2 linked regions of the Homo sapiens genome follow. Changing the gene in region 1 together with any one later gene gives a genetic interaction. Each region holds a gene or a part of one and is shown on either strand. Other genes may lie near its edges.

Region 1 (7,852 bases):
ACTGAGAAAGCAGCTATAAACTGAAACTATATTAAGTACCATTGGTAAAGATACAAAGGTAAGAACAAAAGGAGACAGAAATGTTTTATACTTCTCCTTACCTTCTAACAAGTAAAATACCAATAGTTCCAATTCCCCTTCTAATATAACCATTTGTGTTCCAAAAACTCGGTGAACAAAAATCATCCAGAAATACAGACATTATATATATCACCATGGAAAATATTTCACACTTCTTGAAGGGTTTTTTTGTTGCTATATATCAACTATATGAAACCACTTGTTCACAGTTAGCTTTCCCAAAAACAAAACAGTTTCTAAAACAAAGACTGTTTACATCTCTTAAGAAGCCTTTGTTCCAACAAGACCCCTCTTCAAGAGCTACAACTTCTGGAAAGATTTCCCTTTTTGTGGTTATATCAACAACAAATACTCTCAAACTCTTTCCATTTGGCAAAGGAGTTTGTTAAACAAAGGAGGAAGCAAGTCCCCTCCACACAAAGGAGGTCTCCAAACAGAGTACTGGTTGTATTTGTAGATTATTGGTGCCTCTTTAACCCCTTTCCTCAGGCTGTACTATGTAGCACTCTCAATACAAAATGGTGGCCATCATGTCTGTCTGACATTCAGAGTGAGAAAAAGGCAATTCGATCACACATTTTGCAAAGATTACCATTAATATTCTAGCCAAGATGAGGAAATGGGTAGCCAAGCCTAACCAGAGCAACACTATCTTTTCAGAAAAAGGGCCCTCTAAAAGGCAAAGAACAAGAAAACAAGATAAAGGATTTACCCCAGCCCTGGTATACCACAATACCAACATGGAGGACACCTCCCAGGAACCTGACTCCCCACGTTTTGGTTACTAAGAACTTAGTCAAGTTACCCAATTTCTGAATAAAATCCCATTATGCAAATGTGCAATATTCATATTCACCCTTCCTAGCATGTGACATGAAGCTACATTACTACAGTGTGAAACATGACCTATTATTCAAGAATTAAAACCTTGGCTCTAACCAGCCCTGTTATAACTTCTGCAGGCCTCTTTGCACTAAGAGAAACGTACTTCCCTTAAGCAGCAAGAATCAACCTTGCCCACTTCGCTGTAAGAAATGGATCTATTTTCAAACATTTCCCTCATATTCGCTGGCCAGTTATTTTCTGAAGCATGTATTTCATCTCCATTTTCAAACTTGCTTAAGAAAAACTAAAGTAGGTGTCCGTGTTTTAATTTGGGGCAGGGAAGGGTTAAGAAGCCTTATTTTCAGGGATCTCCCTGAAAACAGCTTTCCAAAACATAACGATTACAAACAGAATCCCTACAACTCAAAATGTCATTACAAAAAGCAAGCTTAAGGGAGAAAGGGGTGGGAAGGGGTCTTCCTCTACTTAGAAGTGGGGGTGGGGGAAGAGAGTGGGGAGAAGATTCTTAAACAGCAGGAAAGGCAGTTAAACCCGCTTCCCAACGGTCCCAGCCCGTCCAACCGCCGCTTAGGCCAACTCGGACTCAGACCCTCCCGAAAGGTGGGCAAAAAAAACAGGGGTGTAGGAGCGCACCCAGTTCCGGCCACGGAGGAAGGAGTTGGCCGGGCTCTCCTCAGCGAACGTTGGAGCCGTTACGGATGGTTTCAGCAACACCCACCCCTCACTCACTGCCCCCAGGCCCGAGGCGCTGTAGACAGGGCTGGAAGGGCTGCGGTGGGTGACTGCCTTTCAGTGCCCGGAGCCTGAGGGCCGGGGGAAACGAGCACGAAATCTTCGGAGGTCTCTCCGTCTGACGTTCCCCTACAAACACGGCCTCGCCCGGACCCCATCCCCACCAGCACAGCCCAGGCCTCCCCGGGGAGCCGAGCGGCTGAGCCAGAAGAAGCCGGGAGTGTGCGCGTTCGGGAGCGCGGGCGGGCATCGGGGCCCACCGCCGCCCGTCCTGCCCCCGCCGCCCCAAAAGTGTCCCCCAGACACTAACGCCCCCCACAAACATCCGCTCCGGGGCTGGACCCGCGGCTCCTCCCCGCCCCCAGCCAGCGCTGGCCGCCCCCTTCTTGACCCCGGCCCGGGGGACACCTGGAGGCCCGGGGACCAGGCGGTGGAGGGGTGCCCTGGTCTGGAGGGTGGGGCGCCCAGGTGAGGGCCGCTCCGGGCCGACGCCGCCACCACACAAAGGACCAGGGGCTCCCGCCGCCATATTGAAAACTTTCCTCCTCGCACGACAACTCGCAAGTCCCCCACCCCCACCCCACCCCATCACACACCCCCGCACCCCGGGAGCGGAGGCGAGGACCAGCCTGCCGAGCCTCGCCGGGCCCACAGTCCTCCCTCCAGCCCGCGCCTCCGCCAGGCTCCGTGAGGAAACTCCCCCGCGACCACCCCCGGCTCCTGCCATCACTCCATCCGGAACCGAACCCGAACCTCCGCACCCGGCCGCCCGAGCCCCGCGGCGACCCGGCCCTCCCATGGCACCGCCGAAGCCCCCGGTTCTCCCACGCTCCTCATCTCCCACCCTGGAGAAGCCCCCGTCTTCCTCCCCCGGCCTCAACTCCGACCTTCTAGGCAGCCCCAAACTTGACGAGGCCGGCGGGGCGACCGGCTCCCCGCCCCCCGCGCCTCGGGCCTCCCCGGACCCGCGCGTCCCCGCTCCCTCCCCCAGCCACGAGCTGGATCCGGGGTGCTGGCGTGACTCACCGGCGGCGGCCGCACCTTACAGATGCCAGTCTGCTCGGCTATGGGCCGGATCTTGTGGATGAAAGCGAAGGGGTCCGCGAACTCTTCCCAGCTGGGTTCGAAGACCGGGCACTCGGGTGGAGGCAGGAACTCGCCCAGCGGGCCCGGGCCCCCGAGGGGCAGCGCCGGGCGCGGGCCTGGGTGCAGTGTGGTGGCCGCCTCCATCACCGCAGGCTGGGCAAGGGCGAGGCGAAGGTGGGCTCCGGGACCGAGGCTGCGAGCTCCGCTCGGTCCGAGACCCGTGCAGACGCGGCTCGAGCAACAGCAAGTCCGAGTTGTACGGGCAACGGCAGCACCTTGGGCTTTTTCAGCCTCCGACGACGACGTCTCGCCGCAAGCCCACGCCGTGCGCCTCCGCCGCCACGGCGAGGAAAAAGAGTCCCACCCCACCCCCATCGACCCACCCTCCGCGCGCGGCTCCCCGCCCCGCCCCCGAATCGGGCGGGGCCGCGCCTTCCGCTGTGGATGGAGTTTATCCTTAGGGTTTCAGTTGAGCCAACTTTTATTGACCATTTACTATGTATCAGAGTTCCTGCCCTGAAGAAGTTAAGTCTGGTAGAAAGGATCAGTCCCATAAGCCAATCATTCAATCACGTCAGTACACAATGGTAGGTGCAGTAAAACCCAGGAGGGGGTTTTGGAAAGAGTATTGGAAACGGAGAAGGATTTTCCAGTAGAGATAACAGCTTGAACATACACATAGCATGTTCATGAGAAGGCAATAGTAGTAATAATAATAATAACGTAACATTTTGGGGCACTTTCATATCCTAGGCACTGTTCTAATTGCATCGCATGATTAATCACACAACCCTATGAGATAGGTACTCTTATTTCCACTTTACAATAAGGAAAGTGAGGCATAGGTAGGTTAAGCAATTTGCCATAATTCACATGGCTAATAAGTGATGGAGACTATTGGGAGGTGGAGATGTTGCAGGGAAAATAATCATCCACAAACAGTCTATGACGAGGTCAGACTTGAGAGGGGCGAAAGACTTGAAATAATCCAGACAAGGAATGATAGGATCTAAATTAAGGCAGTGGTGCTGATAATTATGAGGAAGGGATGCAAAGGTAGGAAATAAAATTAGGACATAGTGACAGATTGAGGGGGGACGACGAGGTATTAAGATTCAGATGTCTGGCGTACCTGCCTGAGTAGATGCTAGCCCGTTGGCATTGCTGGAACATTCACCCCAATTATATACAGAAGGCGAGTTACTCAAGGGAAGAAGATACTGTGTTCATTTCTGGACATTTTGAATTTGAGGTGTCTCTGGTACATACAGGTAGAAATACACAACGGGGTATCCTTCAACAGACTGAAGGGTATAAATCTGAAGGGGCGAGATCAGAATTGGAGATATAAATCTGGGAGTTATGTGCTTATGGGTGATAGCCGCTATTTAATGCTACTGTGTGTAAAGCACTGCTCTAAACGCTCTGCATGTATTAGCTCACTGAGTCTTCACAACCACCATATTGAGTAGGTACGATATTATCCTCATTTTGCAGAGCAGGCAACGGAGGCAAAGAGGTTAACGAACTTTAAGAGATACGAACACTTTTGAGGCGCCTTTTTTCTTTTGGCGGGAGACGGGGGACGGGGGTGGGGGGGTAGTGTCCAGCAGCCTCAGAAAAAAGGAGGAAGCTCAAAAAGTAGAACGTCAACATTGAAATGACCTCTTTCATCCAGAAAGCTGCCAAACGTATGCAAGGAATGTTTGTCAAGATCTTAGTTCGCTTTCAGATTCACCTAGTGGAAGGAAATCTCTTATGCTTAAGAAGTCTTCAATTAAAAGGGGGGATGGGCGTGGGGGGAGAAGAAAACCGCCTTCCCTTCAACAAATTTTTCCCAGAGGTACCGGGCCCAGGAAAGAGTTCACAGTGGTCCTGGGAGAACGTATTCCTTTTCTTAGCTCTCCAGGGCTTTGGGACCTGGAGTCTTTTCCTGCTCCCTACTGCAATGGAGAGTCAAGCCCAGGGGACAGCTAATACACTATTAAAAGAATTATCAGTGCAAGATAGATATGCGATGTGGCAAGTTATAATAGAATCTAGGTAGTGGGTATAGAGGAATTTGATGCAAATTTCTTTTAACTTTACTGAATATTTAATAATACTAAATAAAAGTTGGGTAGAAGAATTATCGTCGATGGCTCTTTGGTGCGCATTCTGGGCCTCCGAGGGTCTTGATGAAGCTCATGTAGTGTCATGTGCTCTCTCGGGAGAGCGTTGACTATTTTCACTCCTAACGTTGGCATCCTACGAGCCAGGTAGGCATAACTTTGAGACAAATTCTAGACTTACATGAGTTATGATTATTATTTAACTGAGATGGACAGGAAGAACAAGCCTAAGAAAATCTTTCCCAATTCTCAGCTGCGTCCTACGATTCCCTCTCGCTCCCAACTCTCAAGGTCTCCCAGTCCGGCTTCCTCCATTTCCGGTAGTGACCCTAAGTGATGAGATTCTATCGCTCCCAGATCAGGCCGCAGCTGTTTGGCTCCCAGCAGACCCGGTGTGACGTTAAGGGACGGGGCGGTTGCCGGCGTCTTGAGGGGAACCTAGGGACCGAGAGGACTCTCCGGGAAGGCAGCCGCTCCCCCGCCCACAACAGACGCTCCCCTTGCCCTTTATGATGTTTACATGGGCGGAGGGATCCCTCCCAGCTGACAGCCACACCGCGCCGGCCCTTCTTTTTTTAAAGAGCCTAGCCACGGGCGCTGACTGGCCGGCAGCCGGGCGCGTCATCCTCCGGGGGCGGGGCCCGGGCCGCATTGTCTCGTCTAGGGCCGGCTGGACGCCCCAGAGGCCGGACCTGGGCAACCCCAGCCTGGAGGTGCCGGGGCCGGAGCTCCCAGAGGGCTGGGTGCGAGGCCTAGGCGGGGTCAGGTTCGGGTTCCTAGGCCATAGCGGAGCTGCAGCCCAGGCGGCCGGAGCGGAACCCAGCCCCGCTCCGAGTGCCACGTCTCCAGGAACCCCCTCCTTACTCTTGGACAACACTCCGCCCCCGCCCGGGCCTCCGTCCCCCAAACCGCCCTCATTTGTGCAGCGCCAGATCCTTCGGACACATCCCTAGGTGTCTCCATCCTCATTCGGTCCATCCAACTCCCAGACCTCACGTCAACCGGCTGCACCCCACTTTCCAGCCTGCGCCCCAGATCTGCAGCCTTCGCCCCTAGATACACCCGCCTGGTGATGAGGCGCTCCTCGCGTTCCTTCCGGTAACCGCGTTGCGAAGACCACGCTGCCGGGTTGCAAACTTGGGGGGACTTCCTCCCTCCCCTCCCCCTGGGCGCCGTGCAACTGCCCTGGGACCGGGTTCTGGGATGAGGGGGGCAGACCGGGCTCCCCAGCGGCCGGCGCAGCACGTAGCGCACGTGTAGGGTCCGCTCCCCACCCCCTCGCCGCCTCTGACAACTTTTCAGGGCTCCAGGTGTCCGTGAGCCTCCCTTCCGCCCTGGCCTCCGGTCTCTGCCTTGCTCGTGCTTCTACCACCACCCTTCCCCTCCCAACCCGGTGGATCCTCTCGTCTCCCCCAGTCTCCAGTGCACCGGCTTTCCCTCGTCCTCTGCGCAGTCCATCTCAGCTCATCTCTCCAATTCAATGCCATCATCTCTCCTCACCATCTCTCGGTGCCCTGGAATGTTTGCTGTCAGATGTCCCCTGTGAAACCCACAAACGCTTGCGATTTGGCCTCCTTGTTTTATTTTGTGTAGTCCTACAACGTCTTGTTACTACCCCCTATTACAACACTTATAACTCAGTATTTGTCTTTTTTCCGCGGTGTCCCTGCACTCTCCCCATACATATTCCTCTCCTGCCAGATTGTAAGCCTCTAGAGGGAAGAAGTAATGTCTCTCTCCTTGGCACCAGGCACGTGGCACACGCTCCACAAATATTTGTTGAAAGGGAGGGTAAATGGCCTTGAGTTTCTGTGGCTACCATTGGCTGAGGATGGAGCTTTGGGCTGGACAAAGAAGAATCTGGTTGACCACATGAAGCAGGAAGGAGGCTCAGAACGGTGTTGAGGGAGCCTCCACAATGGGTGGGCACCACAGGTGAGATAAACCCATCCTCCCCCATTCCCTGCCCTGCTTAATTCCCGGGAACCAGCAACCCCTCCTATGCTATCGTCTACTGCTGAGCTGGTCCCTTATGGTGGACTTCTGTGCTCACTGTTCTGCTTTAGCCCCAGCTGTCGGGGCTGCCCTTGGGGAACAGCTTACACCTTGACCAGGCGCTCATTTCTGGGTTTCTGTTCTTGGGAAGCTGGGTCTGGGTCCTGGGAGCCACCTGGTAACTAATAAATACCTCTTCCTCCTCCCATCTGCTCTTCCTCTCCTGTCCTGGAATCCCTCTCTGATGACTCAGCCCAACTGAGATCCAGGGTAACTGCACCCTCAGTCCTGGGCTTTGGTTTACCTGGGTGTGGGGCTCAAAGGGCTAGACCCTTGTGGGGGTCAGGCGCTGACAAGTGGAACATTCCCACGGTGCTGCCAGCCCTGCCCACGGGGATTGGGAGGGGCAAAGTTAGCCACACCAGGGCTTCAGGGCGTGTTTCTTCCCATTCCAGTTGGGCAACTTGAGAAGCCCTGGACTCCCAAGGAGCAATCCTGTGAGCTGCTTAGAGAAGCTGTGAGGATTAGAGGGAAACTCATGTTCCCTGTTCATCCCGCAGTGGCACCACCAGCACCCCTAATTTGGGTCTCTGGGCTGAGGGGCCCCTGGCAGCATGCTCAATGGCCTTGGATAGCTGGAATGTTTGGAATTGCCTGCATCTTGGATGAAAGTCTTAACAATAGAATGAAAACTGCTGCAACACTGTGTCAGCACTTTACAGACCACCACTGTAAATTCCCAGTTGAAACTGGGAATTTGGAATTCCATGTTCAACCAAATCATGCTGAGTGCCCAGCACAGCGTCTGACACACTAAATGCTACAGGTGAATTCCCTTTTTCCTCTTTCCTGGCAGGAAGCGGGGATAGGGGAACCACTAGAAATACTGTAATAACATGAATAAGACAAGGCCATTAGCCGGGAGCAAATCATAGAACATCAGCCCTGTGAAATGAGTGGTATTAGTGTTACCATTTTTCAGATGGAGAAATTGAGACTCA
Region 2 (7,608 bases), on another chromosome or scaffold:
CTTGCAGGTCAGAATTAAGGAGGTTTTCCATACACGTGTTTGAAATCAAAAATAAAATCACAACTTATTCAACAATTAAAATTGTTACAGAACCAACCACTCAACGAAGGTGTGCCTGTGACTTTTTTCTTGTTGTTTTTCAAGTTAAATCAGTGTTCACTCGCTCTGGAAGACTTTCTCTCACATTGTGAAACACCCACTGGAATTCATGGACATTTTTCCAAGAAAAAAAACTAGGCAGTAACAACTCCGGAGATGAAGAGACAGCTCCTAGGAGGTCGGAGGGAAATCCCTTTCTGTCACTCCTAAAATCTAGCTTCCATGAATCCCTTTCAGTCCCTTCTACCACAAATGTCCCACGCTGGCCACCAAATACCCCCAACCTTGCCAGTCAACTTCACAAGCCCAGATCGTGTGACCAGAGTTAGACGATGCCACCTTGCTATTTACCTTTGCGAATGACTGTCTGATCGTGCAGCAACAGGTGCTGGTCGTCGACATTCTGGGGGAGAGAGGACAAAATTCCCTTAAGTTCGGGGGAGCCTAGAGGAGTGCGGGGTGGGGGCAGAAGGCCGTAGGGTGAACAGGTCCGGTCAGGAGCCGCAGCGCCGCTCACCTGCACCTCGTCCATCTGGTGAGGCATGTCGTGGAGCCCCAGGTTCTCGGCCAGGCCCGCGGCATCCAGGGCGTGTGCGTGGGGCAGCAGCAGGTCGGAGCGGCGGTAGGCATCCCTGCGGGCGCTCACCGCGCCCGCCTCCAGCCCGGAGAGGTGGGGCAGTAGGCCGGCCGGGCGCCCGTGGTGCGAGGGCAGCCCCGCTCCCTCCTGGCTCTGGCGGCCGGGCCAGGCCTGCTGCTGGCTGCCTGTGGGCGCCGGCTGGTGCAGGGGGTTGATGGCGGCGGCGTACGCTTCCCCCAGATGCGAGTAGGGGTCGGCCGACTGGGAGTAGGCCAGCTGCTGGTAGGGAGGGGGAAAGTAGGGTGGCGGCTGATATTCGGCGACTCCAGTGTGGGAGAGGGGTGGCGCGGGGCTGTAGAGGTGCTGCCCGGCGGAGGAGAGGTGGGGGACCCGCGGATTCCCATTGCTGCTCCCGTCGTGGCGATCCTGGAGGGAAAAAAAAAAACAGGAGACCCCGTTAGTGCGAAACCCCGCTACTGCGAACTGGCCGGCATCGCCGGGCTACGCAGAGGGCCCCGGGGGACCAACCGCACCCCGCCCGGCGGGGCTTGCCCAGGGTCGGAAGGTACCCGGGGGCAATGCGCCCCGAGGATTTCGTTGTAAGCAAAGAGTGCGGGGAGGGAGGAGAGTCTGGTGAAAGACCTGGGGGAACGAGTTCTCAAAGCCCGGCGGCGAAGGTCTAGGCGCTGCTCCCAAGCCCGAGGCGCTTGGAGGCGCCAAGTCCGAACCCTGGGTCTTGGGCCAGAAAAGTCCGTGGCCGGAGCCCGGGGCGAAGGAGCCAGAGCCCGGGGCGAAGGAGCCGGACGCCCGGTGCAGAGCTATCTCGTGGAGCCCGCCCATGACGCAGGGACTGCTGGAGGTGGCAGCGCGGCAGGCGCGGATAGAGTGCGCGGCGCGGGAAATGCGCACCTCCCCCGCCCCCGGGACCCTCCCTTCCACGCCCTCGGGACAAAGACCTCCGAGCGGGCGGCGCTCGGAAAGCAGGGCCCGCCACCCTGCGCCGCCCTGGGAAGTGAAGAGGGAGCGCGCGCACAGGGCGGCCCTCCCTGCTGGCCGGGCCCAGCCGAGGGGAGTAATAAGTGGGGGCGCCCTGCACTGCCAAGGGCAGTGTTCTCGCACGTCGGGGCGCAGAGGGGGCATGAAGAACCCTGGAAATTGGGCAGCCTTGCCCGCGCACGTTCCCTCGCCCCTGGGCGGCCCGACTCAGTTTCTAAAGGATGCGTCCCCATCTGCCCAGGGGTCTCGGGGCGCCGGGAACCTGGAGGAACATGGCGCTGTCGCCTCCTGGCGGAAGCGCCCGGGCCTGCGGGCAGGGGCAGCCCTCCAGGGCCCGGAGGCGCAGTGAACTCCCGCGAGTCCGTAGCCCGAGCTCCGCGCTCCCGGCGCCCCTGAGCTCGCCTAGCGCTGCCTGCGTCTTCTTCCTCTTCCCGCTCGCCGCCTCCTTCTTCCCTCCCACTCTCCGAAACTCTAGCTCAACCTGTCCGACAGGCTGGAGCACTCGCGAGCTCTTACGGCCCCATCTGGCCTCGGGCACCCCCACCACCACTCCCCAGCCCCCACTTCTTTTGAAAGCCAAACTTCGGTTGTTTTCGTGCTTCCCCGAGGAGGTAGCGGGGCAGGTGACAAGCCGGCCTTGGAGGAGTGTCCGCCAAGGTGTCGCTAGCAGGTAGCCTCATCTGACCCCTTTGGACAGAGACTTCGTGCGTAAAAGCCACGTCTGAGGGTTGCAGACGGGGCACTTTTCCGAGAAAACGGGAAGCAGGGCTGTTTGCCGCTTAGGAAAGCGCCCGGTAAGCTGTGTGGGTGGGATTTGCCATTCTCTTTCCAGGCCTCGTTCCCGAGGGGAGGCTATTTAGGAAAAGGCCCTATACAGGAAAGGGGCCCCGCAGAAATGGACTAAGGGGTGTCCGGAGAAGTGGATCCCGTCCCACCGAGAGGCCAGGGCTCCTATGCCCTCGTCCCCGACCTCGGTCCAGTGGCCCCTGCCTCCCGGACTGTCCTCGGCGGGGCGGGGCTGCACCCCGGAGCCCCAGCTCACCTCGCAGTCCTCTTCGTACTTGACATTATCGGTTATTTTCCACAACATGGCGTCCGGCGTCCCCCAAAACAGTCGCCAGTTAAATCCAGGATCCCCCCAGCCCCCAAGCGGTAAATCCAAAATCGGGGTCACGGTGACCAGGCGTCTGCCGCCGCCCCCGCCGCGCGCGGGCCTTGCTGTCCGGGTCACTGGACACGCATCGGCGGCTCTGCGAGCGTAGATGCTGCCGCCGCGAGTGTCAAGACCGCTCCGCGGACGGGGAAAGCCGCGCCCGAACAGTGTGTCCTGGCGATAGCCGGGGGACCCGAGCGCCTTAATGAGAAGGAAATTATCATAACTCCTCCCCGGGGGCCGGCGCGGAGGCCCAGGCGCCGGGCGGGGCGGCCCCCAGCCAGTCCCAGCCTAGCTCCGCCCCGCACCCGGGCCTGGCGCAGCGCCGAGCCCCACGCTGTGAGGGACGAAGCGCGGAGTCAGTGGGCGGTGCCTCGTTGACAGCCGAAGACCTGCGAGGCCTGGGTCCCCCGACGCGCCTTCCTTCTGTCACCTCCACCGTAAACACACCTGAGATTGGCAGAGCTGGGGGAAGGGATCCAAATACTGAAACCCACCCCTCTTTCGCCTAAACGGCCTTCACTCGTTCCTCCAAAAGACGGATGTCACCTGGAGTTAAGAAACTGCGCATTTGGGGAGCGACTCAACAACCGGGGTCTCCTCATCTCCTAAAAACACATCCCATCCCACCTACACCCCACTGAGGCTTAAGGTCTGAGCTGGGATCATGCAGCTGGAGCCCCAGTGCGCCAGAGACGCCCAGTTCCCTCCGTGGGCACAGCGCGGTCCCGGCCCCCGGGCGGGAGGAGAGAGGAAGGGACTCCTGGGGAGTCTGCCCCAAGGGCCGCAGAGGCAGCAGACGGTCCTACCCGCCCAGGAGTTGCGGACAGCGGCGTCTCGCCGCTGTCGCCCGAAGTGGCATCTCCCGCGGCTGGCTGAGGCCAGGGGGAACCCGCGCGCACTGGACCAGCCCAGCGGCCCGGCCCTGCCCTGCCCTGCGGAACGCCGGCTCTGCAGCTGCCTCTGGCGGGCCGGTCACTCAGAAGCCTCTACTCGCCCTGGGAAAGAAGCGCCGGGCAGGAATAAAACCCGAGCGCCACGGGTAAGGTGAGGGTGAGGAGGTGCAGGAAGTTGGGAGAGAGCCTGCAGAGAGCTCTCGACTGGAGAGGTAGACACCCAGGTCCCACATGTTTAGACAGAAAACGAAACTTCCTTCCACACAAACGCTGCTTCCCTCTCCCCTTCGGTACTTGCCACCCAAACTTGAAAGCAAAGTGCAATACTAATTTTTAAAATTTAAACTAACGAAATTCTTTGGCCCAGTTATTATGCAGCAATTGACTTTCATTGTAAGGGGAACATCGCTAATTCTCGAGGGCGTATTTGTTGGGACGCCCCAACTGGCTCCCTGGGCTGGATTTAAACATTCTGTGGGGATTAGAGGACAAGACTATTTCTATTTGATACTGAATACGATTTTGCAATAATCAATGCCTATCAGTACGGTGTCCGCACCTGCAGTAGACATGACTCTCCCATCCACGGAATGGCGGCATCCACTGCCTCGCTGTTCCTTCTCGGGTTCGTTTGAACTTTAGCATTTATTTAGACCCAGGTGGGCCTAAAAGAAAATAATAATAATAGGCGTCCTCCAAGGGAAACTTTCCCCCGGCCTTAGACAGCAGCCAAATCCCAGGTGATTTTCCGACCGGACGCGGGAACAAAATCTGGAAGTTGAAACCACTGAGACTTTTCGGCCAAGCATATCTGCAGGGCTTTGCACTAAGGAGAACAGTGCATAAAAAGACACACAGGACCCTGACACTTCGGTCCCAAAACAGGCTTCTGGGGGTAAAATAAGTTACCGCAGAAGCAGCGCTCCTGGTATTAGCGGCGGGGGAGGGGGACACCTGCCAGAAGCAGAAATTAGACCCAGGCCCGCAGGCACTCCAGAGCACAGGTCCAGGAAGATGGGTCCTAGACTCGCCAGAGGTGCGGCGCCTCTTTCGGGCGCCTGGGACTCCCTGACGGGTGCCGCTGGGCTGTCCGACATTCTGGGCCTTCTAGCCCTCGGTTTTATTCTCTGACCCGGCCTGAGGTGCAGCTTGAACAAGCTGTCTTGTCTGTGCTGGCAAGTTTACCTCCTGCACGCTGGGGCCCGGAATGGGCAAGAAGGTGCTCATCCCCCATCCCAGGCCCTGGCTCTCCTTTCCCACAGCAACACTAGCCAAAGCTGCCCGGAGGAACCGATATGCCTCCCCGCCTGGGAGCGTCTACGCAGGAGGCGAAGGGAGCCGATGGGCACTGAGGGCTCGCGCAGCACCGTGCCGTGGGCCCAAAGGACCCAGAGGATCCGGAACCGCTTGGCAAAGGCCATTCATTCCCAAGGAGCTTCCCTGGACCCCGGCGCTGCCCTCTTTCCAATGGGTAAGCGTTCGAACTGGAGCGCAACCTCCGCGCCCTCTGTACGGAAGGCAGCTAGAACAAATCCTCTGTCTTCTCGGCACGGGAGACCCTTCCCCAATACGCACATTCTCGGCTTCTGGGCCGGCACCCAGGCACGCGCGCGCCCTTGTGAGGAAGCCTCAACCCTTCCTTGACTTCAACTTTTCTGCTCAGCAGAGCCGGGAACCGAAGGCTCCAGCATCCAAGACAGCCTCCCTCCAACGTCCCCGCCCCTTGCCCACGTGAAGACGCGGACTGCGTGGCCGCGCTCAAGACAGCCGGCACCGGCAGAAGGGGACCCCTCTGGAACCCCGGAGGCCTCGCAGCCGCCTGGAGAAGAGGATGGAAGGTTGTCGGGGGTTCCCCTCTACCGCCCCCTAGGGAGCCTAAACTCACTTACTCCCTGGAAGCCCTGGACCCACGCCCCTATGAAACCGCAAACCAGGCCTCTGCAACAGCGGGAGCGCCCCAACAGCGCGCCACTTCCAAAGAGGCGCGAGGTGGTGCCTTTGGAAACAGGGCTCCCGGCCCCAGGCCTGAGTCATCCGCCACCCCTGCCCCCACCCCAGACGGAAGAAGGCGGCCAGGCGGGTAGAGCAAGATTCGGGCAGATCTGCGACTCCTCTTCCCGCCCCAGGGAGGGGACTCCCGAGCAGAAGATGGAGGCCCCCGAGCGCTTTCGCAGACTCCGCGCCACGCGCCGGACGTTTGTCCCGCCTCTCGGGACAACGTGAGCGCCGGTAGGGACCTCAGTAAGTGGCAGACCCGCCAGGATCAAGCAAGGTGGAAAGGCCGGGGCCTGCGGCAAACCCAGGAGGAGGGGGCATTCACGCCCGCCACCCTCCCTTCGCGGCACTGGCACCCACTGGACCGACACTGGCGTCAAAGGGCACCCTGAAGTATCTATGTCCAGTAAGGGCATGCCCTGGGGCACCACAGACATCAAGTCACAGCCACTCCAAAATAATTACAAAAATGATTATCGTAAATAACAGATTGCTTTAATAGGGCGCGAAGCGGCCGCCGCATACAGACGCCTCTGGTCTCAGTCCCACCAGATTCAGTTCACTGCTCGCTTCTTTGCGCTCCGCGTCAGGCCGCATGCTCTTCGTTTAGAACCTTTTGAGCCTTAACTCTTCCTCTCAAACAACTCCTTTTTTCAAACAGGCAAAGTGAGGCGAGGAGCTGAGGGGCTCACAGGTTCCCAAGCTTCCGAGGAGGGCCCGGGTCCACGTCAGTCCCGGCCCGCCAAACGAGACTTCGTGGGCACAGTCTCTAACCTGACAACCACCTGTCCCATTTCACAGCAGGCAAAAGTGAATTTTTAGTCGCCCAACTACCTGAAAGCCACAAAGGTGCCTAGGGTTGAAGGCCACTTTCCTAGCGGTTCTACTAGGGAGCCCGTTAGAGACATGCCTGACTCTCCCCCTGCCCTGCCCCGGGGGGGACCCCCGCCCGCCGGAGGCCTCACACGCTTGGCCGTGGGATGGTAGACTCCTGTCACCTCTCCACTAACATCCCGGAGCCCATCCGTACGCACCCTAACCGCTCGGAGCGCAGGCCCGAGGACTAAGGCGGTAGCCTCGTGTCCCCTGAGGCCTTCTCCGCTCCGTGTTCTGGGTCGCCATACACTTCCCGGCTAAGCCCGGCGCCTTTAACTCAGAACTTGGTCGCCTCCAGGCGTGGAGCAGGCCACTGTTGCCAGACGCTGCGCGGACCCGTCTTCCTGCGCCAGTACTGGGCGACAGGCAGCCCGGGCAGCACCCAGGAGCCACCCTGCACGGCCCCAGGCGCCCGTCCCACCCAGCGCCACCCCTCGCCCTTCGCAGCGAGTCCTCCCGCAGCCTCTCCTCTCTGCTAGCCCCCGGGGTCGCACCTGCCCTCCACACAGACACCTCTTTTCTCACCCGTAGGAACTGGAAGCTCATGGTGCCAGCTCTCCAACCCTCTGTGAGTTGAGGAGTTTAAGAGTAGGAGAGACGTAGAAAAAGAGTTCCCCGAGGGCCGAGTCGTGTGCGGTAAACACACGCTTCCAGCGTTTATTTAATTAACGGGAGGGGGAGGGGAAGGGGGGAAATTCACAGCCAAAACGAGCTATCGCGATTGGAAGACTGGCAGGAAAGGTCCTGGTTACTCCTCCCCTGCCCTCCTCCCCTTGGAAACTATAAACTCTGCATTTGAAAAGGGTATACCCTAGGGTTTTAAATTATCTTTACATATGTATATGACAAGCGGTACGTAGGACTTCTTCAGTCAGAAATTATTTTAAATGTAGCCTACCTCTTACTGGCAAGGGATTTTTTTTTTTAGTTGGTTAGTTTCTAAGACCAAAAGTATTAACATTTCTGGGAATTCTCAGCCTTCATGTCACATCACAGGTTTCCGGGTTCAGCTGAAA

Evidence for each region. A genetic interaction does not mean that the proteins touch.
Region 2: of KDM5B (region 1) and TFAP2C, changing one enhances a phenotype caused by changing the other (phenotypic enhancement), as found in Homo sapiens cells (one study listed by BioGRID).

Annotation. Positions count from the first base shown.
Region 1 is NC_000001.11:202,805,417-202,813,268, forward strand, and holds the start of KDM5B (lysine-specific demethylase 5B), read right to left. Parts: upstream 3,006-7,852; 5' UTR 2,890-3,005; coding exon 2,686-2,889; intron 2,594-2,685; exon of another isoform or gene 2,547-2,593; intron 1,884-2,546; exon of another isoform or gene 1,561-1,883; intron 1-1,560. Other genes in the region: uncharacterized protein LOC124904583, read right to left, coding at 5,619-6,143. UniProt on the Homo sapiens protein: Histone demethylase that demethylates 'Lys-4' of histone H3, thereby playing a central role in histone code. Does not demethylate histone H3 'Lys-9' or H3 'Lys-27'. Demethylates trimethylated, dimethylated and monomethylated H3 'Lys-4'.
Region 2 is NC_000020.11:56,624,699-56,632,306, reverse strand, and holds the start of TFAP2C (transcription factor AP-2 gamma), read right to left. Parts: upstream 3,002-7,608; 5' UTR 2,763-3,001; coding exon 2,715-2,762; intron 1,103-2,714; coding exon 617-1,102; intron 503-616; coding exon 451-502; intron 1-450. UniProt on the Homo sapiens protein: Sequence-specific DNA-binding transcription factor that interacts with cellular enhancer elements to regulate transcription of selected genes, and which plays a key role in early embryonic development.